3 linked regions of the Homo sapiens genome follow. The protein of the gene in region 3 interacts with the protein of the main gene of each other region in a biochemical or structural test. Each region holds a gene or a part of one and is shown on either strand. Other genes may lie near its edges. The genes, in order: USP16, ATAD3A and DNM1L.

Region 1 (10,823 bases), on a different chromosome or scaffold from region 3:
ATAAAGGGGATTCCAAACGTTGAACTGAAATAACCCATTCTTCAAAATGATTCATCACTAATCTTCAAATTATAAAGGTACAATGATCAAAGACCCACTCTACTCAATAAGTGTTATCAACTTCATACTTAAGTGAGTTGCTACTGGAGCATTAGGTAAGCCACAATTTGACTTTAAAGGACTTTCCTGAAAAAGACCACTTTGACTTACCTTACATTTAAGGGTGCAAAAAGGAGCCAAATCTAAGATTTCCGGAAACTTTATGTGTTTGTTAACTTTGCGTAGGTTAAAACCAGCCTAAAAGAGAAGCATAACAGATTGACTTCTTTTCTTGGAAAAGCAATACAGGTTAAGTAAACCGAAGTCCCCTCCGACGTCCAAAAGAATATCAACATTAAGTCCTAGTTCAATTTTCTTTGGAGACTCAATTCTTCCTGAACACTAACTGATTCCAAGTTGGTTTGCTTTTGCTAAGTACACATGTATCACACAAAAAACACACACCAACACATTAAGAAAGCTATTCCCAGCTGGACACGATGGCACATGCCTGTAATCTCAGCACTTTGGGAAGCTGAGGCAGGAGGATCACTTGAGCCCAGGAGTTCGAGATCAGCCTGGGCAACACTGTGAGACTCTGTCTCTACAAAAAAATTAAAAAATTAGCTGGACATGGTGGTAGCCACCTATAGTCCCAGCTACTATAGAGGCTAAGGTGGGAGGATCGCTTGAGACTGGGAGGTCAAACCTTCAGTGAGCCATGATCGTGTCATTGCACACCAGCCTGGGTGACAGAACAAGACTGTTTCAAAAAGAAGAAAAACAACTTTTCTCGTGAGAAAATTCTCAATGTTTCTGCTTCAGCCATCCAGAAATGCCAGATTAGACCACAGGTTCTGAGTGCTTAAAACTCAGCGATAGCATAATACTTTTCTGTGAAACACACGCTCTCAGCCTCATGCTCAAACCAAGCTTAGTGAATTGTTAATAAAGGCCCACCCAATTAGTCAAGCCCATACCAACCACAAGAGGCAAAACGTTCTGAAGATACTGAAAGTACTTTCGGAATTTGCAACACAGTTTAGAAGTTATACAGCTATAGCAAAAGTTTTCCAGAAAAGATGAGGTCACCAAAATGATGACAATCCAAGGCACCAATGTCTTTTTATCAAGGGTCCGTAAAAACAAGATGCCACACACAAAACAGAAAAAATCACTAATATTCCTAAGCATGAGATATATGTAACACACCAGTCTTTTTCTTTTTTTAACCTGAAATAAAAGTAAGATGCCAATCGTACTAAAAAGAGGGACATAAATGAGTTCTAGGAAATCTGAGGAGATTGTGCCTCCATCTTCACATGCGCCTCTGCCTAGCCCCTATGTTTTTCCCTTTCTGACTTCATTGACATTACAGTTAAGAAACAACAGAAAACCAAAGAAACAAAGTAGTATGTTGAGACAGTAATGAAAAAAATAGGTAATAAAGTAGGTGTTACATATTTAAAACAAATTTTGGGTAACAAGGAGTACCTGCTGAAATCTCTTTAAATGAAGAGTAAGAACAGGAGGAGCAAGAGAAATTAGCATCTGCTTTTTGGCATTGGTGTAAACATGCTTCCTTTCACCTAAAGAAAAGAAGAAATTTTTAACAGGGAGAAAATCATTTTAGACCCCTAAAGCATTCAGATTTGCTATAAAATCATTCCAAACATCTAAAGCAAGGATCAGTAAACTTTTTCTATGAAGTACTAGATAACAAATATTGTAGAATTTGTGGAGTAAGAGGCAAAATCAAAGATATTTTATAGGTATTTATGAGATTAAAATGTCCATAAATTCTTACTGATGAAATCAAAATACAGTAATAACTGAGAATGATTACAATCAGAGCAAAATTGAATTACTGTGGAGAGACACAATATTTTGGTTAATGAGGTTGAAAGTTTAGTATATTCCATCACATCAAATCATTTGCAAATGCTCATCTATAAAAAATATTTTTTAGGCTGGGTGCGATGGCTCACGCTGTAATCCCAGGACTTTGGGAGGCCTAGGCGGGCAAATCACTTGAGGTTAGGAGTTTGAGACCACCCTGGCCAACGTGGCGAAACCCTATCTCTATTAAAAATACAAAAATTAGCCAGGTGTGGTGGCGGGTGCCTGTAGTCCCAGCTACTTGGGAGGCTGAGGCAGGAGAATCTCTTGAACCCGGGAGGTGGAGATTGCAGTGAGCTGAAATTGGCCACTGCACTTTAGCCTGGGAGAAAGGGCAGGACTCTGTCTCAAAACACACACACACACACACACACACACACACACACACACACACACACACACGTATCGTCTCTGAGCTGATATATATACAGACAAAAAGTAAGCCTATTTTTGTATAGTCTCTGAGCTTATATATATATACATACACACACATATATATATATACATACACACACATATAAGATACATACACACACACACAGGCTTACTTTTTGTCTCTATATGTAAATAAATAAAATTCTACTTAGAATTTTAAAATGTTTCAACAATTCTACTAAAAATCCTTAGGAATCCATGGCCCCTCCACATCCTATTTACCCAAACTCAAAAAAAAAAGCAATGGGGAGATAAGGGAAATTGTCAGTATGATCCTTTCTCCCATTTGAGGAAGACTGTAAGAAAGCACTGTCTTCCCAGTGCTTTGCACTGGGCATGTCATATTAGTTCACTGATAAATTCAAGTGTGGCGTCCTGGGTGCAAAGGAGGTAAGGGTGGAAAAAAATAGCCACTATGTGTCAGGATGCTGTGGTGACTGCATTCCAAGGGGATAATTTACCCACAGGGAGAGATGTCAGGGAGAAAACTGTCCCATTTAACTGCTGCTGGGATGTCACAGTGTATTAGCCACTTCAATAAAGTCCTACTTTTCCATCCTATTAAAATATTTACACAGAAAAGGACACTTATTCATGCCATCCAAATCCTGATACAATTAGGAGTACTCTACCTATGCAGTGCAAAATGTGCCCCTGAATATTAATTTTACTTACAGTGAGAGCATTAAAATACCTTTTATATTTGCCTTTGGTCCATTACACTGTCTCCGTGTGCATACTTCACAAAGCAGTTTATTCGCATCTCGAAGTTTCTCATTACGGGTGAACTGATATAAACAATGTTGGATTGAACACTCATCAGTATTGAAAACTTCCCTGTTTGCAAGAGTACAGAAAGCAGTTTCTGGATCTTCATTTACAACCTCATACACCTTTGTTCCAGGAGTATGACTATCATTCAGAATCTCTATATTTATTTCATCAGGATGAAGAGCAGCATTCAAATTTAGGTTTTTGAAACCATTGGAAATGTCCACTTCTCCATTGCTCCCTTCCGTTAGGTAGGCACCATTTAAATTCCTAGTGGGAGAAGATGTTAAAACCTCCAGATCATTATCCATGTTGATATTTTTCATATCTACTTCCTCTGTGGATTTTTGATTGTCAGTTACACTTTCGATCATTTTTGCTTGGCCATTCAAATCTTTCTGGTTGACACAATATTCTTTATGCATAACACCCTCTTGTGAAATATGGTTGGATTTAATATTTACTTCTCCTTGAAGTGACATTTCAGCTTCATATTCACTGTCTTCAGGATGGTCAATAGTACAAATATCATTTAAATGAAGAACTTTTCCTTGAATTTTTTGTTGTCTTCGTTGGTTCTGGGTAAAAAGTATACGGCATCAAAAAATAAAGAAAAAGAAAGAGCGGGAGAAAAGGAGGAAGAGAGATAGAGGAAGAAGGACAAAACACACACATGTACTATATCCAGTTTTGCTGCTTGTCAATCAAAAATAATTTCCTAAGGAAGAGTTCACTCTCACAATCTGATCCTAAAAAGTTCCTTTGCTATCAAGGATCAAAAAAATTATGACGAAATTGGCTGGGCATGGCGGCTCACACCTGTAATCCTAGCACTGTGGAAGGCCAAAGCAAGATGATCACAAGAGGATCACTTGAGGAGTTTGGGACATGCTTGGGCAACATACTGAGACCCCATCTCTAAAAAAAAATAAAAATAAAAATTAGCTGGGCACGTTGGTGTCCACCTGTAGTCCCAGCTATTCAGCAGGTTGAGGTGGGAGGATCACTTGAGCCCAAAAGTTCAAGGTTACTGTGAGGTATGATCATGCACACTATACTCCAAACTGGGTGGCAGAGCAAGACTCTGTCTCAAAAAATAAATTATGAAGAAAAGTTATTTAGGCCAGGTGTGGTGGCTCACACCTGTAACCCCAGCACTTTGGGAGGCCAAGGAGGGCATCTCACTTGAGGTGAGGAGTTTGAAACCAGCCTGGCCAACATGGTGAAAACCCATCTCTACTAAAAATACAAAAATTAGCCAGGCGTGCCTGTAATGCACACATGGGTGGTGCGCGCCTGTAATCCCAGCTACTCGGGAGGCTGAGGCAGGAAAATAGCTTGAACATGGAAGGTGGGGGTTGCAGTGAGCCGAGACCACACCACTGCACTCCAGCCTGGGCAACAAAGTGACTCTGTTCCCAAAAAAAAGAAAGAAAAAGTTATTTAAATGAAATCAGGAATAAACCATCACCAACCATCAAAAAACCACCCTACTGTAGAAATAAAAATATGCAAGACATGGTCTCTGTGCTAAGGGAAGTAATCCAGGCAGAGTACTAAGACTGTTAAACCCAGGCAGTCAAATGTTATACCACACGGTGGGTCTGACTCCACACTAACAGAAAGAAATGTATCCATATGAGTTACTGGGTCAAGGTTTCACTGAGAGAAAAAAAAAAACAAACTGAAAGAAAACTCAAGGATGCACAAGTACAGGACTGCTTTGGTCAGAGGAATGGACAAAAGTATTCTGGGAAAAAAATGGCCTGAAGTTAGCAAAGAAGCAAGGTAGCCACACATACAGAAGAGAGTAAAGAACTTTTCCCTTTAAAATCACTCTTGCCACTTGCAACCTACTTCCAAATAGAGGAAAAGAAGGCATTTCATCAAGATTCCTGTTACTGAAATGCCTAAAAACCCAAAGGCATTTCTGGTTGTAACAGAAAGAACTGAAAGAACAGCCCCTGTGAGGCTACTCTGTAATACCAGAAGAATGAAGGGCAGCAAACAGGATGGGAACCAAACATTTTCTGATGTGTTTCCGTAAAAACAGAGGAACACATGAATAAAAAATAAGAAAAGAATATAAGCAAAAACTTCAAAGAACATGAAATGCAAATGGCTCTGAAACATAAAAATATGCTTAATCTAATTTATATTAAAATAAATGTAAAATAAAACTGCACTGAGATAATATTTTCCATCTAACATACCAATCAAAATCTGGAAGTTTGATAACACACAGCTGTCAAGGGTCAGGAGCAACCTTTGTGAAGGACAATTAGTATCAACCAAAACTACAAATGCAATCCCTCTTCTCAAAATTTACCCTACAGATGACTTATGTGTAGGGTTATTCACTAGAGCACTCACCATTATAGCAAAATACTAGAAACAACCTAAATCAATAGAGAAATGGTTAAATGAATTATGGCACATCCATAACACAGAATCATGCAACTGTTAAAAAAAAGAAAGAAAGAAAGAAAGAAAGAATGGGCCAGGCACGGTGTCTCACATCTGTAATCCCAGCACTTTGGTAGGCTGAGGTGGGCAGATTATCTGAGGTCAGGAGTTAGAGACCAGCCTGACCAACATGGCGAAACCTGTCTTTACTAAAAATACAAAAGTTAGCCAGGTACGGTGGCACATGCCTGTAATCCCAGCTACTTGGGAGGCTGTGGCAGGAGAATCACTTGAACCTGGGAGGCAGAGGTTGCAGTGTGCCAAGATCTCGCCATTTGCACTCCAGCCTGGGCGACAGAGTGAGACACCATCTCAAAAAAAAAAAAAAAAAGAATGAAGAAGTTTTATATACTAAAATGGAAAGGACTCCAAGAATCTAAGTATAAACAAACAACACAATCCAGAATGGTGTGAATGGTGAGAAAGGGGGAAAAAAACCAAGACTGCATATTTGTATTTGCTCATATTTTCCAAAAGAAACTCCAGAAGGATACGTAAGAAAAAACAAAAATGTTTATCTTTGTCATAAAAGGAAAGTGGTGGTCGGCCGGGCGCGGTGGCTCATGCCTGTAATCCCAGCACTTTGGCAGGCTGAGGAGGGAGGATCACTTGAGGTCAGGAGTTTGAGACCAGCCTGGCCAACAATGGTGAAACCCTGTCTCTACTAAAAATATAAAAATTAGCTAGGCTTGGTGGCATGCACCTGTAGTCCTGACTGCTCAGGAGGCTGAGGCACGAGAATTGCTTGAACCTAGGAGATGGAGGTTGCAGTGAGCAGAGATCGTGCCACTGCACTCTGGCCTGGGCGACACAGCAAGACTCCATCTCGGGTTGGAAAAAAAAAACAGTGGTGGGAGGGGGACTTATTGTTTACCTTTATATATTTTTAAATTTGTGGATGTCAATAATATTAACTCGAAAATTAAGTTAATTAAACTTACTACAAATACTTGTTACAAGCAATGCAGGATTTAAAAAAAAAGAAGCACGACGTTTTCTTCACATATACTCAAAGCAATTTCCCTGCAGAGAATACTAAATGAGCTAAATTCTGTAATTGTCAAATGAAAGTGCTGTATCTAAAATAACAGACATGTCTAACCAATGTCATTCAGACTACAAACTCAATAGCTCAAAATATAAAATTACAAGCATATGATTTTCCTCCTAATTACCCACCTTGGCTTGCTTTTTGGCTTGTTTCTTTGCTTTTTTCTGTAAGTGCTTACTTGTTCCAGAAGGAATATCACTTCTCTCTTTTATGTAACTGTCGTTATCTTTTTCTTCCTCACTATCTTGATCTTCATCCTCCACTGTCTTTTTCAGATTTTTATCATTTACACTTTTCTTACCACTCTTAAAATATAGATAACATAGGTCAAAAACAAAATTTTACAACTACCATTTGGTGAAAAAAAATCCACACTATGTAAATATTTTTCTACTTCTATTATGTATTAGCTTTTTTTTTCCACAATATTTGAAAATAGATGAGACAAAATTCGTTTATCTCATACACTAGAAAGCAATCTTCACATAATGAGAAAACAAGCAAACCAACAAAACAGCAAAAGGCAACATCACATGTAAGTGTAATAGAAATATAACGAAATTTATTAGATACATGCTGTGTCACACTGTAAATACGTCCATTTCCAAATACATTTTCTAAGTGACTTATGTAAGTCACCACGGTGTATTCTTTTTTATTCTTTTCTTTCTTTGCATGCATATGACAGTTTCAGAAAAACAGAAAATAAAATTTGGTGAGACTTTAATTGCCAAGTTAACAAGCCAAGGGTCTCATAATTCATATGAAGTTGAAGAATGATTTATCCAATACTCATAACATCTCTTCTTTTTTCCTACTACTATTTAAAAGGAACCAAATTAAAACAAAATAATACTCTTTAACATTTATGAACTTAGGTGTGCAAGGGATTCGTGATTAGTCTTAAATAACAAAAATAAGTATTAATTTTAATATAAGGAAAATACTTCACTGTATGGAAACCAATCAAACTAATTACTTGTACAGAATTCTGAATACATCATCTTTTTTTCCATCCTTGTTTTTAAAGTAGTTACCCTGTTCTTTATTCAAATCCTAAAATGCATTCTACCTCAAATTAAGAAAAATTTCTGCATGGGCTAGTAATATACAAACTTAAAAAGAGTAACAAGGCTTCCCCCCACAAAATCTTACAGGAAAAAAAATCTACTTGAATAAAATAAATTCAATAGTCTTACCTGATCATCTAAAACTGGGAGGGACAAATCAAGGAAAGATTCATGAACCAAGGAGACCTTAACCAATCAGAAAAGACAGTGTAAAAATGTAAATACTGTAAATGTTACATAGTAAGATCCTCCCTGCCCTGTGGGATGGGGAGTAGGGGATGGGTTTTAAAATAAACAAAGGCTTAAGAAAATTTGAAATGAAAAATTACACAACATTGAGGACTTTGGGTTGGGGGAAATAAATCAAACTGTTTAACGTCTTCAAGATTTAAGGAGTGCTGACATTTCCCACAAAGAACCATGCACATCTGAATAGCATCTGAATAGTTTAAAAAGATATCCTATGAAGGTAGAGATTTCTGCTTTTGAAATAAACAATTGATAAACTGTTGAATATTAGCAAATAAACCCAGTATACATGACATCTACTTACAGTTCTGCATTGATCACACATGATCATACTAGTTAGTTCACCACCAAAGATGCGGTCAACAAAACTTGGCATTGATTTTTTCTTCTCATAATCTATGGAGAAAAAAAAGTCTATCAATTACCAATTACCGTTATATAATTAATTAAACAAGAAAAGCTAAAACTACTTACCTATCTAACTCTAAAATTTTATTTTAAATTTCCTGTCCCACAGACTTCTTCCTCCATTCATAATCACCTTTTTTAAGCAATAGAAGTCAGTATTATATATTCCACCTCTGAGCATAACATAATTGAACACAATCGCCTTTTATGAATAAGACAAAAAAGTCCTTATCCAAGATCTAGTCAGTGGGAAGTAAACTGTGCAAGTCAGTGAGACTTCTATGTCTTTCTCTCTCTCTCCATTAGTATAAAATGAACAGCTCAGAGTAGGCTGAATGACAGCCTAGTTCCTTAGTTCTAGCTCTAACATTCTAACATTCAAGACTGATAAAAGATACCAGAGTAGCAAACTGGGAGAGAAAATGCATGTAACTTGTTTTGTGAACTCTAAGACTGAACTCCTTTGATATTTTAAAAACAAAAGAAAAACCTCAGGAAAATATTTCAAACAAAATCTTCCTTTTATTTTCCTATGCTCCCAGAAATAATCTTGATAAGTTTAATATAACTAAAAGCCATAATTTTACTACTTGATCAGCCAATTTTCCAAATACGTGAAACCTATAAGCATTATTCAAATGATAATTTATGCAGAACCACACTTTTCTGACAGAAAATGCCAGCAGGGGTAATTCTCTCCATTACTGGCCAGGCTCTAAAGGGCACCAAGGAGGCAAAGAGTTGCTATGAGTTGATTCAAATCTGTGCTTTATAATACAGTGCCCTTAGTCACTTACGGCTATTTAAATTTAATTACAATTAAATAAAAATAAAAATGTAGTTCCTCAGTTTCACCAGTCACATTTCAGGCGCCACACGTGCCTAGTTGCTTCTATATGGAACAGCAAAGGTATAGAGGAGTTCCATCAACATAGGAAGTTCTACTGGGCAGATCTGCCCTAAATCTTTACACGCCACATAATAAGAACTAAGTTGGCTCCATGATTAATAAACCAACTACTGACAACTCACAGTAACAAATATAATTCATGTATTACTGCTAATTATAATTTTAAGCTTTTGAAAAGTAAAACTGTAATTCATCATAGTTCTATCTTTAATACATAAAAAGAATACACCATGGGGTAAAACTGTTCACTTCTGGAGCACTGAATAATTTTTACTAATCAACGTTGATAAAGAGAAATTATACATTAATAATTGTGGACTTGGAAATATATGTGCCAGCAATCTTGTCCTAAGGTACAGAGGAATTCAACTATAGTGTTTTAGTTCAAAAAGTCAGACATTACCTTTAACTTTATTTTTTAGTTCTTCATCCAACTTTTCAGTAGAATTACCAAATGCTTTAAGTATTCCTTTACTCACTCTCTAAAAGTAATAAAATGGATATATATATACTATTAAATTTTAAATTTTATTTTCCTTAGAAATATGTAATCAAGTCAAGAAAGTGATCAGGATACAGCTCCCCATATTTACTAAATAATTCCAAAATCACATTTTCAAACTTAATTCAAGGAGCTAAAAAGGAATTATGTCACAAAGCAATCACTAACCATTGAATAAAGGTATTATCTTATCATTTCAAGATCTTAAACCTCTTCAAGCCAAAGGTTTTCAGAACATGCCCACCACCTTTGAGAAGAAACTGAAATAGCTTGTCCTACAAGCACAATGATTACATGACAGCCACAGGGTCTGACTCCAGTGCTTAAAGCCCAGCTCCATTATTTCTGGGGGACCTTAAACTAGGTACTGAACTTCTCTACAGCCTAGATTCTCAATCTATGGAATAGGAAAAAATCACAGTATCCACCTCACAGAAACTTTGTGAGAACGAAGTAAGGGAATTAATACAAAACACTGAAAACAGTGATTGGCATAAAAATAAGTGCGAAATAAATATTAGTTATTATCACTATTATTAGTACTCATTAATTCATACCCCAAATACATTTTTTTATATCCTGGCAAGTAACAAAAATTTTAAAATGCAACCAATGTTCCCTGACTCTTACAAAATGAAAATACTTCCTAGGTTCAAAAAACAGTATTAAATCAGACTCAGAATTAAAAGTAAGGGTGTGCTGCACCTGGGTTTGGGAGAAACAATTTCCAATATTTGGCAGCTCTCTTCGTATAGGTTAGTACAACAGAATCTTTAAAGAACATTAATGCTGTAAACATCAACTAAACTTAAGCCATCATGAGAAAGAGAATTACTGCTAATTCTCTGGATTCATTCTAATGGTGAAAACATACTAGTTGAAAAAGCTGGTGTAAGAAAAAATTTTAAAGTATGATGGCCTTAATAACTAGCTTTCATTGTTTTAACTCGTAAGATATCAAATGAGACAGAAAGCTTATGAAGATAAGATCATAAAATACAATGGTCATAACATGCTAACTTG
Region 2 (11,210 bases), on a different chromosome or scaffold from region 3:
GTCGTGGGACAGAAGTACGTATTCTCTGAGCTGCTGAGGCCTCAGCATCAGGTCTCAAAATTTTCTGGGATGACAGTTTTCCCATCATAAAACTTTACCATAAAAATCTTTTGGCTGGGCGCGGTGGCTCACTACTGTACTCCCAGCACTTTGAGAGGCTGAGACGGGTGGATCACTTGAGTCCAGGAGTTAGAGACCGGCCTGACCAATGTGGTGAAACCCCATCTCTACTAAATATACAAAAATTAGCTGGGCGCAGTGGCGGACGCCTGTAATCCCAGCTACTCTGAGGCTGAGGTGGGAGGATGGCTTGAACCCCGGAGACAGAGGCTGCAGTGAACCCAGATCGCACCGCTGCACTCCAGCTAGACAGAGAGAGACTTAAAAAAGAAAAATCTCCATCCGGGCCAACATGGCGAAACCCTGTCTCCACTAAAAAGACAAAAAAAGAGCAGGGCACAGTGGTGCACGCCTGTGATCTCAGCTACTTGGGAGGCCAAGGCTGGAGAACTGCTTGAACCCAGGAGGTGGATGTTGCGATGAACCGAGGTTGCACCACTGCACTCCAGCCTGGGCGACGGACGGCAACTCCATCTCAAATAAATAAATAAACATATAAATCTGCTAACACAGAAAGACACGTAAAGTAGGCAGGGACCCCCGATGCTCCTGGGTTGGTGCGTTGTTCCCGTCTCTCTTCCTCCCGCAGCCCGTCTCACTTTTTTAAGCCTTCAGAGTCAACTGCAGCAAACACGTCACTAACTAGAGCCCAGCGTCTGTTCTCAGCTCAGGTGTAATTTTTGGAGGTGACTGACGCAGGGGGAAGTGCCGTGGGGAGCACTCGTTGCATTTAGACAGAGGCAGCGACGCTTTGGTGTTGGGGTGGGTCTGCTTGGGCCTGTGGTTAGGCACGAACTGGGCTGACGGGCATCAGTGTCAGATTTCAGGAAGCGCCTTGGTAGCTAACCTCGGGGGCCCCAGTGAACAGAGCACAGATGAGACCGGGACCTGCCTCTCAGGGAAGACAGTGCCAGGTCAACGGGTTTGGCTGCTAAGCTCGGGAAGCCAAGGGCTGAAGCGACCCCGGGCTCTCAACCACTCTCACTCTGACCCCGAGGGGACTGAGGGTGTGTCAGTCACCCAGGGTCCTGCCACAGAGCAGTGACAGGAACGTGGGTGTCACGGTGAGGAGCTCTGCCTGTTTCCTCCCGAGGGGACCTTTGGCTGGATTAAGCTGAGGCCACTCCCTCCCCTGAAAATGGCTCATTGACAGTTCCTACCCCCAGTGACTCTGGGGAGGAGGAGAGGGGAAAGAGCAGGTCAGGTGCCCGTGTGGCCTCTCGGTTATTAGAGTGAGAACAATCATTCACCACTTTGGTGTGACCCTGTGCCAGGGACGTGCGTCCCAGCGCGTGAATTCACACCCACAGGGCACGAGGCTCTCCTCCAGGCACCCCCTCTGTGGAGTGCAGGGCGAGCGCTGGTGCTCACAGACAGTTCTGGGATAATGTACTGCTGTGACTTCCAAGGACAGGCCGGAGGAGGGGTCAGGGCACTCTGGGAACCAGGCGGCATGGGGCTATAGCCTCAAGGGACAGAGGAGGCAGTCGGTGAGGAGGAGCCGCCCGTTTGCCTGGAGAGCAGCAAGGACAAAGCAATGGGCTCCGGCCGAATCTCGGCGACCCGCTGCCAGGAAAGGGGCACGGAGGAAGCCAGGAGCGTCGGGAGGGGCCGGGCTTGCAGAGGGGCTACCAGGCAGAGGGGCAGGGCAGGGGGCACCCGGGGAAAGGGGGCAGTCAACTCTGGAGAAACCTCTCTCACCTGCCAGCAGTGAGGCCAGGAAGGAGGGAAGGGATCAGAATGAAAGAGCCCACACCTGGAACACAATCCACAGGAAACAAAAGCCTGATGGAGGGCTCCCCACGGTGCACCTGGAGACCCTGCCCCGGGCCCCGCTCCACCACAGAGAGGGCAGACCAAGGCACTGGCAACGCCGGCAGAGCGGACTGCGGGTCAGGAGCTCCGGGGCCGCCAGGACTGGAGCAACTCAGAGGCACAGGTCTGCACTATGGGGAGGCGGCCTGAGGCTGCTCAACCAGGCCTGTACCACTGCAGGGGGCCGCAGGCTGATCACTACGATTCAGCTTCTGGAAGTGGGAGAAGTTTCAATCTCTAAGTGAAGTTAGCGGGTGAAAACCCCCAGGAACTAGGACACAAAGGAACCCTCCAAATAAGCCTGCAGCAAGAAAGTCAGTCACCAACATCCGCTGTCCTCCGAGGTGCCCTGAAGTCCAGCCCTTGATTCCCATCCTAACCTGATGGTTAAAATTACCGAGGAAGGCCATGAGCAGCGGCTCACGCCTGTCATCCCAGCGCTTTGGGAGGCCGAGGTGGGCGAATCACCTGAGGCCAGAATTCAAGACCAGCCTGAACAACATGGTGAGTGCTCACACCCTGAGGGCCTTGGGTCAGGGGTTTACTCAAGCTGAGCAGCACGGCCTGGCCTGTGGCTTCACAGACCTCGCCGTGCAAATGCTAACGTCTTCCAACAAGAAGTGCAAATCTGCTAGTCTCGTTAGAATCAAGTAACTCTCAAATACGCTTCCCTTGTTACGTGGAAACTGCTAGCAACCACCCAACAAACCCATCTACCCATCTGGCCACGCCTTGGCCTGTGCCACGTGGAGGCGGCAAGCGCAGAAGGATCCCGCACGCTCGGCGGTAACTGAAGACCACGGCCAGCCCCAGACCCTGACCCCTGTAACCTATGAGCGCCACCTCCGCACCGCTTTCCGCACCTGACCCGCTCCTGACAGCTGCAGAGGTGCAAACGGGTGACGGAAAGAGTCCGATCCTCCCGGCACGCGACACGGCTCCGGCCGGGGGTGCTCCGGGGGCGCAGTCTCGCCCGGGAAGTGGCTGCCGACAGCGGCGAGGAGCGGCAAGGGCCAGGGCTCCCGCTTCCCCGGCCCGTCCCGCCCGCCCGCCCGCGCCGCCCCGCCCCGCCGCACTCACGCGAGTGCTCCAGCTCGCGCGCCGCCTTGGCGGCGCGCTCCAGGCCGGTGGGGTCGAAGTTGCTCCATTTGTCCTTGGGCGCCGGCCGGTCTCCCAACCCGCGGTCCCCGCCGCCCTCGGCCCCGGGCTGCGCGGGCGGCAAAGGCGGCGGCGGCCCCGCGCCTTCACCCTTGGGGCCCTTGTTAATGCCGAAGAGCCACGACATGCTCGCACCGCCGCCGCCGCTACCGCCGCCGGGACCCCCACCCGAGTCTGACTCGCGCGCGGCTGGGAGCAGCCTCCACGCGCCGCGAGCCGGTGGTCACCGCCACTGCGCAGGCGCCACACACACCCCTTCCTCCCGGCGATAGAAGCGCGTAAGGGACACGCGCGCAGCCCTTGGATTGGCCCCGAGGACAGTGACGCCATAGCGACGGCGCCGCGACTGCCGAACAGGCTTTGGGAGCCAGCGGGGCGGGAGCGGCGAAGCATCTGGCTACGGGAGCCACGCCGGGACAAAATTCCCGAGGGACGTAGGCGAACCCAAGGCAGCGTCAGCCCCGCGCCGCATCCGCGTGGGCTCCGTTGCTAGGGGCTCCGTTGCTAGGGGCTCCGAGGAGTTCCGGCCTTGGCGGCAGCGGGTGGCAAGTTTCCAGGGAGCCCCAAGGTTCTCGATCCGTGCGGCGGGGCGCCCTGCGGTGAGTCCAGGACGCAGAGAAGAGTCTCGCGGGAACCTCACCCGAGGCGGCACCGGCGCCCGGGCAAGCCGAGCCCTTCCGCGATGAGTCGGCGCCCTGGGGTCGCTGCGCCAAGAGCTCAGGAGAGGCGCCTCCCCTCCTCGGTGTCTCCGCAGCCCGCACGGCCCTCCCGCCCAAGACCCCGGGGCGACCCCTTCCCGCGTGGCGGGGCCAGCGAGCTCCTCTTGCGGGGCGTGGACGGGGCCGGGGTGCCCGGGCAGGCGCCGCCCCGGAGCCCACGGTCCACGCGCTCCCAGCGGCCCTGACTTTCTCCTTGATGGAACTGGTTGACTTCACGGAATATATGGAGTGACTTTTCCCACTGGATTGGAAACTGTTTTAAGCCTGAATAATGTTAGATACAATGAGTTCTAAACTTCCCTTCAAAGAATCAGTATATCAGTATGTTCAGTCTTTGTCCTGCATTTTAAAGTCTACCTTCCTCGCAGTTTCAGTAAACAACCTTTTCCACCAGTTCTAGTCAGTAGTTGACATCTGTTGCCCTGGTCACCTGCTCCGTCCTAACTAATCCCGGTCTCCTGCTTTGACCTGAGTCACCTTTAGTTACCTGTCCCATAACCATTTTTCCCGCCAAACCACTCACCCCGCCACTCTGGCCCATACTCCTGCTCCCTTTAAAATAGCCAATGGGCACTAGTTTAGACTGTGCATTCTAACCCTAGCCAATAGGGGAACCACACAGCAGTAGGGGCTACCCGCGTCAGGAATAAGAACCCCTTCCCCTCCCTTGTCCAAGCGCTCGCCATTGCTCCATCTATGAGATGTCCCCTTCTATAGAAGTAAATTATCTAGCTGAGAAAAATTTATATTCGAGTTCTACTTCTTTGGCGGCACAGAAAATTTACATATAACACAGTGAGCTGCCGAGATCTCGTCACTGCACTCCAGTCTGGGCGACTGAGTCAGACTCTGTCAAAAAAAAAAAAAAAAGCCAGAAAATGCCGGCCAGGCGCGGTGGCTCACACCCGTAATCCCAGCACTTTGGGAGGCCGAGGTGGGCAGATCACCTGAAAACAGGAGTTTGAGACCAGCCGGGCCAACATGGTGAAACCCCTGTCAAAAATACAAAAATTAACCTGGGCATGGTGGCGTGCGCCTGTAATCCCAGCTACTCCGGAGGCTTAGGCGGGAAAACTGCTTGAACCCTGGAGGTGGAGGTTGAAGTGAGCCGAGATCAGGCCACTGCACTCCACCCTGGGCGAGCACGACTCCATCGCCAAAAAAAAAAGAAAAGAAAAAAAAAAGAAAAAGAAAACAGGGCAGGCGCGGTGGCTCACGCCTGTAACCCCGCCAGTTTGGGAGGCCGAGGCAGGAGGATTGCTTGAGCCCAGGAGTTGGAGACCAGCCTGGGCAACAAAGAGAGACCCCGTCTGTACCAAAAAAATAGGAGAGGAGGAGAAAAACCAAATGACTTCCCCAGCAATAGCCAGACGTCCCCCCACCCCCACCCCATGGCTGTAATCAAGGTTTTGGTTATTTATTTATTGAGAGGGTCTCACTCTGTCACCCAGGCTGGAGTGCAATGGTGCGATCTCAGCTCACTGCAACCTCTGCCTCCCATGCTCAGGCGATCCTCCTACCTCAGCCTCCAAGCCAAGAAGCTGGGACCACCGGCATGTGCCACCTGGCCCTTTTTTTTTTTTTTTTTTTTTTTAGAGGGAGTTTGACTCTTGTTGCCCATGCTGCAGTGCAATTCCATGGTCTCAGCTCAGTGCAACCTCCACTTCCCAGGCTCAAGTGATTCTCCTGCCTCAGCCTCCTGAGTACCTGGGATTTCAGGCACTTGCCACCACGGCCGGCTAATTTTTTTTTTTTTTTTTTTAGGAGAGATGGGGTTTCACCATGTTGGCCAGGCTGGTCTGGAACTCCTGACCTCAGGTGATCCACTCTCCTTGGCCTCACTGAGATTCCAGGCGTGAGCCACCGCGCCCAGCCCCATCATCAAGGTTTGCAGGGACTAGCTGCAAAGCGCGGGCAGGGGCGGCATCTATTTGAAGCCGCTGTGTCTGTTTCGCGTGCACTTCCCTCCACCGTGTGTCTGGCCACAGGCAGCTCTGGCGGAGGGGAGGGAGGCGAAGGGCACCCGCGTATGCACGGCCTCAGGATGGGGCACGGGCACCCGGCCCTGCCGTGGCAGGCACCTCCTGTGCAGCCCACCCCTCTGTGGTTAAATCCTCCAGAAAGCCCCAGCTTCTGCCTTTTCTGTCACCTTTGACCCCAGGGGGACGTTAGGGGGCCCCAAACCCCGCCCCAGCCAATAGACACAGCGGTGCGGCCCCCGTGGGACTTTATTACGGGGAGTATTTCCTAAATGTGCGGGGCCGCAAAGGCAGGGGTGGGAGGGGTCCGCGGCCAGGCTCCGTGAGGTGTGGTCTCCCCATGGACTCAGGATGAGGGTTGCTCGTCCTCGGGCCCAGGCCTCCCCCTCTTCAGCCAGCGCATCATCTGCTGGTGCTGCTGGACAGCATCTTGCACGCGGGTGTCCATCATGGCCTCGGTCAGGACCCCGTCCTCGGAGGCATACGCCGTGGCCTAGTGGGGAGAGAGGGAGCTGAGGGAGGCCGCCATGGGAACCCCCCACCCCAAATGCACGCCAGGGCCCCGAGGTGGGGAGGGACCAAACCAGGGGCTCCAGGATGGCCTGAGCGTGAAACACAGGCTTCCCGCACCTCGGCAGAGCCCAGCACGTGTGTGGACACCGGGGGCAGCCCCTGCAGTGCCCACAGCCCTGCCTGCGTCCTCAGCACTGCTGTTGCTCAATGACTTTCTAATAATAGAAAGCCCAAGGCGGAGCCTCACTGACGGCCGACCCAGGGCAGCTTCCGAGAGGCAGGTGGGAACTGCAGACCCTCTGCGTGTCTCAGCCGTGGCCAGGCAGTGCCCCCGGGTCATAGTGCACCTCAGACCCTCAGACCCTGACCCTCACAGGCCTCCAGGGCAGAGGCAGCCACTGCCCACCTTGAGGCACGTGGCTGGTGGCACCAAGGCCACCCCTGCCCCACCTTCCTGTCCTCCTGGGCACAGGGCTTGGCATCTAGCATGTGAAGGCTGGAGCTGCTGGGGCTGTGGCCCTCGGTGTCGCTTCAGGCAGCCTCAGGTCCAGCCTTTCTGCCAGACAGGTCACTCTCCATCCTAATGCCAGAAAAGGGCATGGAGTCCCCAAAGGGAGTCACCCGTGGGTCAGGGTCAGGGTGTGGGGACCCCCACTGGGCGCCGTGCTCAGGAGGGCACCAGGACGCCTGGAGGAAGCACAGGGCAGGGGACCCTTCCCGGACAGCTGAGCGGGTCCCTAGCCCCATCCCAGCTATGCCTCCCAGAGGCAGGATTCATCTCACGGGGTGCAGGGGCAGCAGCACACCATCCTCCCACAACACCGTCGCCACGATAGAACCTGCCATGGGGATGACCACGTGGTGCCCGTCCCCTCTGCCAGCGCCCATCCCTCGCCAAGAGCCACTGTGTGGGGAGACACTGACCGGAGCTGGACCACCACTGTGGGTCAGGGGCCCAGGAGCGCAGGAGACACTGACTGGAGCCGTACCGCCACTGTGGCTCAGGGGCCCAGGACTGCTCAACATCATTTTTGGTCTTGAGCCCACCCAAGAGAGGGCAAACAGGTGCAGGGACCCTCAGGGTCCACCCGAGTGGCTGCACCTCACCCAGGGCCCAGCAGAGGAAAGGGGCTACGCAGATGCTCACGGGGCCACCCCTCTGGGAAGCACGGGACCTGGCAGGAGCCCACCAGAAGTGACAGCTAAATGTCACGTGGCCTCCTGGGTGGGATTCTGGGGCAAGACCCAGTCGCGGGTGGGGCCAACAGTGACACATGACGTTCACCACGTGGCGAGGCCCCAGGCCCGGGAGCTCTCTGTGCTACCCTTGCAATTTTTCTGGGAACCTAAAATCTCCAAGCTGTAAAAGTTGAAAGAGAAGACCTGGACCTGATTTCTTCACATGTGAATTCACAAAACATTAAGAATCAGAGCACTCCTCAAACTCCTGGACAAATTGAAGAACATTTCCTCACTCATCCTAGGAAGCCAGCAGTACCCTGATATCAAACCCAGATGAAGATGCCACAAGAAAAATGACAGGCCAATATCCTTGATGAGCATCACTGGGAAAGTCCTCAACAAAATGCCAGCAAAGTGAATTCAGCAGTATAATAAAAAAATTATACACCCTGACCAAGCAGGATTTATTCCTGGAATGCAAGGATAGTTCATACGAAAATCATGTTCCACATACGAAATGTTCAACATACAAAAAGCAATCAATATTAGCAGAGTGGAAGAAGGAAACCACATGACCCTCTCAACTGACGCAGGAAAAGCATTTGACCAAATTCAACACCCTTTTATGAGAAAAACACTCAACAAGCCAGGAATTGAAACACACGCCCTAAACATAATGAAGGCCATATATCACAAGCCCACAGGTGACATACTCAGTGGTGAAAAACTGGAAGCTTTTCCTCTGAGTAAGGAACCAGGCAAGAATGCTTTACTGCTTCTATTCCACATACCACTGGAAGTTGTGGCCAGGGCCATTAGAGAAGAAAAAGAAGTCATCCAAACTGAAAAGGGAGAGGTAAAATCACCTGTTCTCAGATGATATAATCTTATATGTAGAAAATCCTAGAATCCTGCTGGGCGCGGGCGGTGGCTCACGCCTGTAATCCCAGCACTTTGGGAGGCTGAAGCGGGCAGATCACGAAGTCAGGGGATCGAGACCATCCTGGCTAATATAGTGAAACCTCATCTCTACTAAAAATACAAAAAATTAGCTGGGCATGGTGGCAGGCGCCTGTATTCCCAGCTACTCAGGAGGCTGAGGCAGGAGAATGGCGTGAACCCAAGAGGCGGAGCTTGCAGTGAGCCGAGATTGTGCCACTGCACTCCAGCCTGGGTGACGGAGCGAGACTCCATATCAAAAAAAAAAAAAAAAAAGAAAAAAGAAAATCCTAGAATCCATATTGGAAAAAACAACCCCGTGACATCAGCAAAGTTACAGGAAACAAAATCAACAGCAGAAACAGCTGCAATTCTACATACTAACAATGAATAATCTGAAAGGGAAATTATGAAACCATTTCCATTTACAATAGCATCTGAAAGAATAAAATACTTGGAAATTCACTTAACCAAGAAGGTGAAAGACTTGTACAATGAAAACTGGCCGGGCGCCGTGGCCCACGCCGGTAATCCCAGCACTTTGGGAGCCAAGGCAGACAGATCACCTGACGTCATGAGTTTGGGACCATCCTGGCCGACGACTGCACTCCAGCCTGGGTGACAGAGTGAGACTCCATCTCAAGAAAAAAAAAAAAAGAAAACCAGACAACATTGCTAAGAGACGTCAAGGCAATATAGAGACTGGATGCAATCCCTGTAAAACCCGAATTATTTTTTACAAAAATAGAAAAAGCATTAATACGTTGATATGGAACCTCTAGGGATCTTGAATTGCCAAAGGGAAAAAAAAAACTTATTTTATTTTTTTGCGAGGGAGTCTCACTCTGTCACCCAGGCTGCAAGACAGTGACACGATCTCAGATCACTGCAACCTCCACCTCCTGGGTTCAAGTGATTCTCCTGCCTCTCAGCCTCCCAGGTAGGTAGGATTACAGGCACACACCACCATGCCTGGCTGATTTTTGTATTTTTAGTAGAGACAGCGTTTCACCATTTAGGCCAGGCTGGTGTCGAACTCCTGACCTCAGGTGCTCCACCCACCTTGGCATCCCAAAGTGCTGGGATTACAGCCATGAGCCACTGTGTGTGGGTGGCAAGCCAACCAGGTGCTGAGGCAAGAGACCGAGGGCACGAGCTGTTCCAGTGTAATAAAATATATAAAATAGGAATAGTTATACCAGATATAGATCTTAGATATGATTATATATGAATATCATTCATCATTAGTTTGTAGCAATTGCTCTTTATTCCAATATTATAATAATCCTCGCTCTATAATCATAATCTAGGAAAAACCAGGCCATACCGAGATAGGAGCTGAAGGGACATAGTGAGAAGCGACCGGAAGACAAGAGTGCGAGCCTTCCGTTACGCCCGGACAGGGCCACCAGAGGGCTCCTTGGTCTAGCAGTAACGCCAGCGCCTGGGAAGGCACCCGTGACCTAAGCAGACCGTGGTCTAGCGGTAGCGTCAGTGTCAAGGGAAAACACCCGCTACTTAGCAGACTGGGAAGGGGAGTCTCCCTTTCCCCGGGGGAGTTTAGAGAAGACTCTACTCCTCCACCTCTTGTGGAGGGTCAGGCCCGCCCACAGTTATCCGAAGGCCTAACCGTCTCCCTGTGATGCTGTGCTTCAGCGGTCACACTCCTAGTCCGCCTTCACGTTCCATCCTGTACACCTGGCTTTGCCTTTTAGATAACAGTAGCAAAATTAGTGAAAGTACTAAAAGTCTCTGATAAGCAGAAATAATGGCGTAAGCTGTCTCTCTCTCTCCCTCCCTCCCTCTCTCTGCCTCGGCTGCCAGGCAGGGAAGGGCCCCCGTCCAGTGGACACGTGACCCACGTGACCTTACCTATCACTGGAGATGGCTCACACTCCTTATCCTGCCCCTTTGTCTTGTATCCAATAAATAACAGCGCAGCCTGGCACTCGGGGCCACTACCGGTCTCCACGTCTAGGTGGCAGTGGTTCCCCGGGCCCAGCTGTCTTTTATCTCTGTCTTGTGTCTTTATTTCTACACTCTCTTGTCTCTGCACACAAAGAGAAAACCCACCGAACCTGTGGAGCTGGATCCTACAACTGTGCCTGGCGCGCACACACACACACACACACACAAACTGTTGAAGGACAAAGTTGGCACTGGGCGCGGTGGCTTACCACCACCACTGTGAGCAGTGCAGGATGAGCATCCTTGTAAGGGACACCAGAGTGAGAGCTCAGTCACTCTCTCCGCCACATGAGGACCCAGCAAAGAACACTCCACAGGGAGGGACTGAGCTGGCACCCTGACCTTGGGCCTGTAGTCTTCAGAGCTGTGGGCACACACGCCCCAGTGGTTATGGCAGGCCCAGCAGTCGACCACACTCCTGTTCTCTCTTTTTTTTTTTGTTTTTGAGACAGAGTTTCCCTCTTGTTGCTGAGGCTTCAGTGCAATGACGTGGTCTCGGCTCACCGCAACCTCCGCCTCCCAGGTTCAAGTGATTCTCCTGCCTCAGCCTCCTGAGTAGCTGGGATTACAGGCGCCCGCCACCACGCCCGGCTAATTTTGTATTTTTAGTAGAGATGGGGTTTCTCCATGTTGGGTCAGGCTGGTCTCGAACTCCCAACCTCAGATGATTCGCCCACCTCGGCCTCCCAAAGAGCTGAGATTACAGGTGTGAGCCACCGCACCTGGCCTTGCCAATTAAATTTTTAAGCTACAATGCCCACAACAGGCAACATGTGAACCCCGCCTGTGAACTCAGGACTGAAAGTGAGGGACCAGG
Region 3 (10,823 bases):
TATATGTGGCCTTGAGGATAACCTGCACTGTCCTAGCCTAAACACAATTCTTACTTACTGCCTTATGTTTTTGTATTTTCTTGGTAGACTGGGTAATTTTTGTTTTAAAGGACAGGAAACTGATATTTTAAAGACCAATCTGTTCTACCTAGCATTTTCACTAGTTTTTCTGCCAGGTATGTTGAATGCACAAATTCTGTCACACATGTTCATTCGCTGCTACATAATTTGGTTCTTCTGGAATATTTATATAGCTCTTGGAGTACAGCTATGAAAATTAACAACTGTTAAAGGAAACACTTTTTTTTTTCGTAATTTTTTCCTTGAAGAACCAAAGTATTTTTTCAGCTGTTTGTTGAATAGGGTTAAGTCTGCTTGGATTAGCTGTGCCTTTCATTACTTTGTTACAGAAATGCAGGGACTTGTACTAAGACAATCCATCGTTTAAAAAAAAAAAAAAAACCGGCATGCCAGTCGCGGTGGCTCACGCCTGCAATCCTAGCACTTTGGGAGGCTGAGGCAGGCAGATCACCTGAGGTCAGGAGTTCAACACCAGCCTGACCAACATGGTGAAACCCCGTCTCTACTAAAACACAAAAATTAGCCAGGCATGATGGCGGGTGCCTGTAATCCCAGCTACTCAGGAGGCTGAGATGGGAGAATCACTTGAACCCGGGAGACGGTGGTTGCAGTGAGCTGAGATCGTGCCACTGCACTCCAACCTGGGTGGCTGAGCAAGACTCATCTGAAAGAAAAAAAAATTGGCAAGACAACTATATGGTTAAGAATTTAAGAACTTCCAGTATGACCACACCCAATAACTGTATTAGATTGTTAATGGATTATTGTGTTATAGGTGACATAGTTAACTGTAAAGTAACCTGACTCAGTATAGTTACTGGTACCACAGTGAGGTGAATAAAACAGGATTTTTCAGAAGTTAGCCTGAATTTCACTGTACTTTTAAATTTAACCTCCATTAACTAAGCATCTTTTCTTTGTGGTAGGGTCTACCTTCTGCTTCCCTGGAAAGGATGAACTTACATCATTTGACAAGACCTGTTTTCAAGTTATTTGTTGTTTGTTTGCTTGTTTTTGTAGCCTAAAATAAAAATTTCAAATACAATTTTAGTTCTTACAAGATGTCTTAATTTTGTACCAATTCAGGTAGAAGGAGAGGCCTAGCTTGAATTAAGGGTTATACTCAGTTTTTACCACATTATTGAAAAGGGTACCAGCTTTGGAAAGAGATACTATACTAATAAGCAAGTGTAAAAAAAAAGAAGAAGAAGAAGAAAATCTTCAGTGATACGATGCTTTAAAAAAAAAAATTAAAGTTCATTTTCTTTGGGGTAGAGCTAGAGAGAATGCCCCAAGCTTCTGTGTGGTTTCTTCTAATTCTTATTGCTTGAAGTATGAGTATGTCACTTACCCATGCTTCTGTTTACTATGTATTAAAATGTGTAGTACTGTTTACTTAACTACCTCATGGATGTGTTAAGGCATATTCAGTTAAATCTCATAAAATGTTTCTCATTCTCATTAAAAGCTCACATTTTGGGCCTATTTGTAATGCCAGTGTTGACACTCAGCATTTTGTTCACACCATGCTTTGACAACTAAACTGGAAAACAGTTATCAAACTAAACTATCAGTTAGTGATCTTTGTGTGGCTTCTATATATATTATTATATATATTATTATTTTTTATATATATATTAAATATTTAATTTATATTTAATTAATATAATTTATATATATATATATATATATATATATTTTTTTTTTTTTTTTTTGGAGATAGAGTCTCTCTCTGTTGCCCAGGCTGGAGTGCAGTGGTGCGATCTCAGCTCACTGCAACCTCCACCACCTGGGTTCAAGCGATTCTCCTGCCTCAGCCTCCTAAGTAGCTGGGATTACAGGCACGTGCCACCACGCCCAGCTAATTTTTGTATTTTTAGTAGAGATGGGGTTTCACCATATTGGCCAGGATGGTCTTGATCTCTCGACCTCGTAATCTGCCTGCCTCAGCCTCCCAAAGTGCTGGGATTACAGGCGTGAGCCACTGCGCCTGGCCAATGTGGCTCCTATTTTTATAGAAGTAGATGGATGCACTATTTCACAAGGTCCAACAATTTTTTTCTGTATGACTGCATAGTAGTAAATACTACAGGGATAGCACATAGTATTGTAGTCATGAGATTAAAGTAGAGATAAGACTATTTTTGACAAAAGATGCCATTAAATTTCAGACTGTAGTGCCACATTTACAATACCTCAGGCTAATTACTGTTAATTTTGAGGCAACTTTCTTTTGACGATGGCGAGGGTGGACTATTGGATTGTCATTAGAGGAAGGTCTAGATTTCCTGCTCTTAACAAAATTACATTGAATTCATTTTTAGAGGTGATGAAAACTTCCTTTTTGAGAAGTTAGTGTTCAGGTCTTGGAATGTGAACACATTGTTTGTAATGCTATCCATTCCTCTCCTGAGATTTTAACTTACTACTGGAAATCCTTAACCAATTATAATAGCTTTGTTCTATTTTCAAAATCATTTCCTTTGCTTTGATTAGACACTCTGTTTTTTTGTTTGTTTTGGTAGCCGTAGTTCATCTAAATGCAGCTTTTTCTGAACTTTAAAGATAGAATCCCTGTTTTTTTTTTTTTTTTTTTTTGAGACAGAGTCTTGCTCTGTTGCCCAGGCTGGAGTGCAGTGGCACCATCTCGGCTCACCACAACCTCCGCCTCACGGGTTCAAGCAATTCTCCTGCCTCAGCCTCCCAAGTAGCTGGGATTACAGCTGCCCACCACCACGCCCGGCTAGTTTTTGTATTTTTAGTAGAGATGGGGTTTCACCATGTTAGCCAGGCTGGTCTTGAACTGATGTCAGGTGATTCACCCGCCTCAGCCTCCCAAAGTGCTGGGATTACAGGCATGAGCCACTGTGCCTGGCCAGAATCCCATTTTTAACGAACTGAGGTAGCAAAATAATCTTTTTCATTCTTTTAGGAAATAGTTATTGCCAAAGTGAAGGTGTCGATAATACCTGGTCTTGTTATATAATGGGGATGTGGTTTGCAGAAGAATTTTCTTTATAAAATTGAAGTTTCAAGGGATATCAGTGTTTATGCCATTTTTCCAGTTCCAAAATTATTCCATTCCATTCTAGAAATCTGAAGTATGTAACTTGAAATCCTTAATAAAATTTGGATTCAATTAAAAAAAAAAAAGGATGGAATTTCAATATGTTGCCCAGGCTGGACTTGAACTCCTGAGCTCAAGGAATTCTCCTACCTCAGCCTTCTGAGTAGCTGGGACTACAGGTGCACACCAACATGTAATTTTGTTTTTATGTTTTATTTTTACTTATCTGCATTTTCTAATTTTTGTGAGCAATTATACTGTGTGTACTAAAGAAACAAACACTTTAAAAGCTAAATTATTTTTAAATACTTATTAAAATATTTAATACTTATTAAATACTTATAAAAATAAGTAAATACTTATAAAATATTAAAATATTTAAAAATATGTGACAATTTTACTTTGCTTTATATCATTTACAAAGCATATTTTCACACAACCAGACATCATCCTATTATCTCTACAAAGTTATATTTTTGTTTTATAGAAAATAAATCTTAATCAGATAATCTGAGCTGAAGTCATCTTCACAAAAGGAAAAGTGACCTAGCAATCTAGGTAACCAAATCTACAGAAAAATTTCTTACTTACAGCTCCGAAGTTTCAATATATTTTGCAGTTCCTTCAATAGTGTTACAATATTCTGTGGCAAATTTGGTAATAAGTTGGAGTAAAGTAGCACTTTTATCATCCACGGGTTCACCGTAGCTATTTAGAAGAGACTGATACTGAGCAGCTAGAACATTTATTCTTGTTTTCAACTCTGGTAAACAATCTCTGATGTGATGCATCAGTAACCTAAAAAAGGTTAGAAAGGAAGGATTTAAAAGTAAAATTGTGTATTCTAAAGCCCTAAACAAGTCAAATTTTTACAATGGGGAAAACCTATCAAATAATTTGTCCTGGCAAATGTGATACTGTGAAATATATATTTGGTCTTTGTCTTCATTTCCTGGCAGTCAGCTCCTAAAATCCTTGGACTCTCCAAGAGCATTAAGGGTGTTTAGAGTGTCTCTGCATGCTAATGAGATGACTGGTGGCTGGGGGTCCCTAGATAGCTTCAGGATGGGAGCTGGTCACCAGAACAGCCTCAGAAGAGAGGAGAGAGGCCAAACATTGAGCTGATCACCAATGGCCAATGAAGCTTCCATAAAAACTCAAAAGGACACAGTTCATGGAGTCTTCAGAGAGTTGAACACATGAAGGTTCCTGGAGTGTGGTGTGCCCAGAGAGGGCACGGAAGCTCCACATTCCTTCCCACATGCCCAGCCCTGTGCATCTCTTCATCTGGCTATTTATCTATATCCTTTGTAATATGCTTTACAGTAAGTGGGTATATGCTAAGTAGTGTTTCCCTGACCTCTGTGAGCCACTCTAACAAATTCATCAAACATGAAAAGGGGATCATGGGTACCCTGACTTATAGCCTGTCAGTCAGAAACACAGGCTACAACCTGTGCTTACAACTGGCATCTGACTTGGGGGCAGTCTTGTGGGACTGAACCCTCAACCTGTGGGCGCTGACACTATCTCCAGGTAAACAGTGTTAGCATTGAATTAAAGGACATTCAGCTAGAATCCCCTGGAGAATTCCTTGCTTGATGTATGGGGAAAACTCCCCATATATCTGCTCTCAAAAGCATTCTGTGCTATACTGATTAACTGTGTGTGAAAAGGAAAAAAACAATTTTGATTGGTTTTTCCTAAATAATAAAAGCAAGGAAAAAATGCAAATTATTTTCATATTACTGCAATTACCACAGAGAAAATAAGCCACCCAATCAATTCTTCCTATATAATTTTGGTTTCATTGACTTGTCATTTACAATTGGTACCCAGCAAAGTGAAAATCAACCTTATTAAGATCCAAGTCTATCAGTCTTTAGGGAATAAGATAAAAGTAAGAGAAAATGGCTTCCACTTCAGTCATTTATAAATCATCTAGAAAGGGCTTCTAGTCCCCACACATCAGTGGGTATTCAGAATCCAACGTATAGTTATTTCTACAGTGAATAGAAATAAAAGACATTCTATTTCTTTGTTTTTCCATCTCCCTTTCCTGGTAAATAAAACACATTCTAAGGTAAGAATAGATAATGTGAAAATTACAAATTTTAATCAGTTCCTGAAATGCAAAGTGGAAATGAAGTCATCTCTAGTTCTAGCCACAAAACTAAATTAACTGTCAAAATTTTCGTAATTAAAACATTTTAAAATCACTTGTACATTCATTCTAGACTACGTGATGATGTAATGTCAACCACCCCAATAAAAACAGAGACATCTACTCTTCAGGAACCTACTATATAAGAAACCATAAGTGAAGCTGTTAGGAACAGTATGAAAATGTAAGGAACTGAAAATGAACCCTCTCAGACACCAATTGGTAAAAACAAACACATCTCATTTCCAAAAGGTAAAAAAATTACCTGTTTAGAGTCCTAGCAAGATACTTTGTTCCATTTCTATTGGCCAGAGATGGATATTTCTTTTGAAGAAAAGCATACTCATCACGGATTGAATCAGTTACACTCTTCTTGTTGTTAATATCTAGCTGGCTCCTGAGGTTGAAAAAATAACGAAACTATTCAGCTTAACTGTTGTCCTCTTCCTACCTTAGATGATGACAGCACCAGGCATTGTTCTCTAATACCTGACAGGGACTGTTTTATTTAATTCTCACAATAATTTTATGTGGCAGGTATTATTACCCCATTGTATAGCAAGGAACTGAGGCTCACAAAAACTAACTTACCCCAGGTCACACACTAACTGGCATAGCCAAGACTTGAACTAAGTGAATTGTAAGTAACTAGTGCCTAAATAGAGTAGGCCTCATTATTACCATTAACTATAGACAAAAACAATAAGTAACAGGTATAGACAGGTATAAAAATATAAGAGTATCTTAGTCAACTGTATATTTTATCCATGGACAGGGAACTAATTTCTCCCAAAAATAATTAAGTTAACTTGAAGAACAATCATCTACAAACAACGAACAGTGTTAGGCCACCTCCTTACCTGAAAAAGGAGACAGCTGGAATTGGGAGTGGGGATGGGAGAATGACAGTGGGGATGGGAGAATGACAGTAGGGTTGGAATGGAAGGACATTAAAATAGAAGCAGACAACTGGAATGGATCTTATGTATCAGGCAGTAAAAACATTTTCATTTTCTAAAGGCTTGAGACCCAAAGACATTAGGTGTCATTTAAACCTACGTTGTATCTAGTTTATGTAAGAACTAGGACTATAACTCAGATTTCATGATAATTTCAGTGTTTCCTACCATATGAAGGCTTTGGACTAAAAGAGATATTCATCCGAATCCAGCTCTTTCACTACCCACGTGACTTTTGGTTAAATGTATAACCTGAGGTTTCTGATTATAAAATAGACATCAACACCTACCTCAGGGGATGCTGTGAGGATTCCAAGAGATACCATTTGCAAATTGCTCACAGTAGAGTGTCTAAAACGTAATTAGACACTCAATAATAATTTCCTTTTCCCGATTTTTAATACCAACTATTTATAATTAGGATACCTTTAATAAAATTTCTCCAAGTCACATCCTGGCAATTACACAGAATCACTAATGCTAGGGATTAAACCAATCTATTAAAATCTTGTCACCTTTAATTAGACACTCAATACTAGTTTCCTTTTCCCAGTTTTTAATACCAACTATTTATAAATTAGGATACCTTTAATACAATTTCTCCAAGTCACATCCTGGCAATTACACAGAAGCATCACTAATGCCAGGGATTAAAACCAATCTATTAAAATCCTGCCACCTTAAACTCTTTCTCGATTGGGTGCACATTAGATAATTTTTCCCTTACCCAGTACCTCCTCATACATAGCTTAACATGATAGGCAAGAATTCTTAAAGCCTGGCTATTACAACATTTCTTCCATTTTGTGGTATTGCTTACTTTAGAAACATTTTCCAGTAAAAATGTCTATGGGGCAGGCACAGTGGCTCATGCCTGTAATCCCAGCACCTGGGAAACCAAGGTTGGAGGATTGCTTGAGCCCAGGAAGTCGAGACAAGCCTGGGCAACATGGCAAGACCTTGTCACTACAAAAAAATTTAAAATTAGCCAGGTGTGGTGATACACACCTATAGTCTCAGCTACTTGAAAGGCTGAAGTGAAAGGATCACTTGAGCCCAGAGGTTGATGCTACAATGAGCCACAATCACGCCACTGCATTCCAGCCTAGGCAACAGAGAGAGACCCTATTTCAAAAAAAAAAAAAAATTCTCTCTCTTTTCTCCCTTTAGGGCAACGGATTCTTTAGCAATACCAAGATCATAATAAAAGGGAGAAAAAATATAGTACAGCATCACATTTCAAACAGATTTTAGAAATTCAGACTTGCTCTGAAGTGAGAATGCTTATCCCATTCTAAGAATGCTTATCCCAATTCTTATCCCATTCTAACTGCTAACCTGTTAACTACTCCAATTATTCCAAGTTTGACTGGAATAACCCTTCCCATCAATACATCCATGGCATCAGTACCCGCATCCATGAGATCAAGTTTAGTGATTACAGCTAGGGTTCTGCGACCTGGTAAATGCAAAAAGAAAAAAGGGCAAAGAAAAGAAAGAAAATGATCCATTAAATACAACTATTTAGTGTTAATAAAGGAAAACCCTCATCTACAATCCCACTTAGTATTACCTCTGTCATCATTTTGGTAATGCCTTACTTACCAGTGCTTTTTTAAAAATAATGTTAAACATTGTGTATAATTTTTTAAAACATTTTTGCCGGGCACGGTGGCTCACACCTGTAATTCTAGCAGTTTGGAAGGCCAAGGCGGGTGGATCACCTGAGATCAGGAGTTTGAGACCAGCCTGACTAACATGGTAAAACCCCATCTCTACTAAAAATACAAAAATTAGCCAGGCACAGTGGCAGACGCCTGTAATCCCAGCTGCTCGGGAGGCTGAAGCAGGAGAATTGCTTGAACCCGAGAGGCAGAGGTTGCAGTGAGCTGAGATCGTGCCATTGCACTTCGGCCTGGGTGACAGAGCAGGACTCCATCTAAAATATATATATATACTATACATATAAAATATATATACTATATTATATATAAAATATATATAGTATATATATAAAATATGTATAGTATATATATAAAATATGTATAGTATATATAGTATGTATAGTATATATTTATAATATATATACTATATATATTATATATACTATACATACTATATATACTATATATAATATATATACTATATATACTATATTTTATATATATATAAAATATATACTATATTTTATATATATACTATATATAGTATATATAAATATATATAGTATATACTATATATAGTATATTTATAAAATATATATAGTATATACTATATATATTTTATAGTATATATATTTCAGTTACAAATATATATATCTACCTAGGTATATATATTTTTTATATATATATCTACCTAGGTATATGTATTTTTTATATATATATCTACCTAGGTATATGTATTTTTTATATATATATCTACCTAGGTATATGTATTTTTTATATATATATCTACCTAGGTATATGTATTTTTTATATATATATCTACCTAGGTATATGTATTTTTTATATATATATCTACCTAGGTATATATATTTGTAACTGAAAAATGCCATAGGTAAAATTGTACACTATGCAGAGCAGGACTCCGTCTAAAATATATATATATACTATATATATATAATATATATACTATATATTTAAAATATATATAGTATATATTTAAAATATATATAGTATATATTTAAAATATATATTATATATTATATATACTATATATTATATATAGTATATATATTATATATACTATATATAATATATAGTATATATAAAATATATAGTGTATATATAATATATAGTATATATAAAATATATAGTGTATATATAATATATAGTATATATATACTATATATACTATATATAAAATATATATAATATATACTATATATTTTATAGTATATATAAATATATATAGTATATACTATATATATTTTATAGTATATATATTTCAGTTACAAATATATATACATAGGTATATATATAAAATATATATAAATATATAAAATATATATATAAAATATATATATATACCTATGTATATATATTTGTAACTGAAAAATACCATAGGTAAAATTGTACACTATGCAGAGCAGTTGGAACTCTCACACGTTGCTGGTGGGAGTGGTGTAGTCATTTTGGGAAACAGTCTGGCAGTTTCTTATAAAGTTAAATTAGCAGTCCCATTCCTAGGTGTTTAACCATGTTAAGTGAGAACCAGTGTTCATATAAAAAACTATATGCAAATATCTACAGCAGCTTTATTCATAATTTTCAAAAACTAGAAACAACTCACATATTTCTCAGATGGGTAGTGAAATACCTATGGTATTTTCAGTTACTATATATATATATATATATATACTATATATAGTGTATATATACTCTATATATAGTATATATATAAAATAGATTTTTTTCACATGTAATTTTTTGTTGACTCTTAGGGCTATTTTGTAAGCATTTCAAAAATCTGTATAAAATTTACATCCAGGTGATATGGCCCATGCCTGTAATCCTAACACTTTGGAAGGCCAAGGCAGACAGATTGCTTGAGCCCAGGAGTTCGAGACCAGTCTGGGCAAAGTGGTGAAACTCTGTCTCTACAAAAAATAGAAAACGTAGCAGGGTGTGGTAGTCCTAGCTACAGGTGAGGCTGAGGTGGGAGAATCACCTGAGCCCAGGTCAAGGCTGCAGTGAGCCGTGATTGCACCACTGCACTCCACCCTGGGCAACAGAATGAGACCCTGTCTCAATAAACAAAAAATAAAAATATTTACTCTTTTTTGGTGTACAGTTCTAAGAGTTTTGACAAATGCCAAGAGATATGTCACAACCAACTCAAGACATTGCCACCCCCCCCCACCAAATTTTCTTATGCTAACCAATCAAACCAGTTTTCCATTCCTAGTTTTGCCTTTTCTAGAGTGTTATATAAACGAAATCAGATAGTACATAACCTTTTGAGTCTGGCTTCTTTCATTTAGCATAATGCATTTGAGATTCATCCGTGTTCTTGTATATTAATAGTCCATTCCTTTTTATTGCAGAGTAGTGTCCCATTGTATGGAATGTACCATACTTTAGTTTCACTCCCCATCTGAGGAATATGTGAGTTGTTTCTAGTTTTTGAAAATTATGAATAAAGCTGCTGTAGACATTTGCATATAGTTTTTTATATGAACACTGGTTCTCACTTAACATGGTTAAACACCTAGGAACGGGACTGCTAATTTAACTTTATAAGAAACTGCCAGACTGTTTCCCAAAATGACTACACCACTCCCACCAGCAACGTGTGAGAGTTCCAACTGCTCTGCATAGTGTACAATTTTACCTATGGTATTTTTCAGTTACAAGCATTTTTCTTTTTTTTTGAGACTGTCCTACTCTGTTGTCCAGGCTGAAATGCAGTGGCACAATCTCGGCTCATTGTAACCTTCGCCTCCACAGTTCAAGTGATTCTCATGTCTCAGCCTCCCCAGTAGCTGGGACTACAGGCATGCACCACCATGCCTGGCTAATTTTTGTATTTTTAGAGAGATGGGGTTTCACCA

Evidence for each region.
Region 1: the proteins of DNM1L (region 3) and USP16 form a complex in vitro, tested with the Homo sapiens proteins (one study listed by BioGRID).
Region 2: the proteins of DNM1L (region 3) and ATAD3A form a complex in vitro, tested with the Homo sapiens proteins (one study listed by IntAct).

What each region holds. Positions count from the first base shown.
Region 1 is NC_000021.9:29,039,566-29,050,388, reverse strand, and holds part of USP16 (ubiquitin carboxyl-terminal hydrolase 16), read right to left. Parts: coding exon 10,821-10,823; intron 9,781-10,820; coding exon 9,702-9,780; intron 8,377-9,701; coding exon 8,285-8,376; intron 7,918-8,284; coding exon 7,861-7,917; intron 6,967-7,860; coding exon 6,790-6,966; intron 3,723-6,789; coding exon 3,068-3,722; intron 1,629-3,067; coding exon 1,534-1,628; intron 298-1,533; coding exon 211-297; intron 1-210. UniProt on the Homo sapiens protein: Specifically deubiquitinates 'Lys-120' of histone H2A (H2AK119Ub), a specific tag for epigenetic transcriptional repression, thereby acting as a coactivator.
Region 2 is NC_000001.11:1,504,279-1,515,488, reverse strand, and holds the start of ATAD3A (ATPase family AAA domain-containing protein 3A), read right to left. Parts: upstream 3,328-11,210; 5' UTR 3,221-3,327; coding exon 3,016-3,220; intron 2,960-3,015; exon of another isoform or gene 2,799-2,959; intron 1-2,798. UniProt on the Homo sapiens protein: Essential for mitochondrial network organization, mitochondrial metabolism and cell growth at organism and cellular level. May play an important role in mitochondrial protein synthesis. May also participate in mitochondrial DNA replication.
Region 3 is NC_000012.12:32,715,550-32,726,372, reverse strand, and holds part of DNM1L (dynamin-1-like protein), read right to left. Parts: intron 7,731-10,823; coding exon 7,610-7,730; intron 5,710-7,609; coding exon 5,578-5,709; intron 3,947-5,577; coding exon 3,740-3,946; intron 1-3,739. UniProt on the Homo sapiens protein: Functions in mitochondrial and peroxisomal division.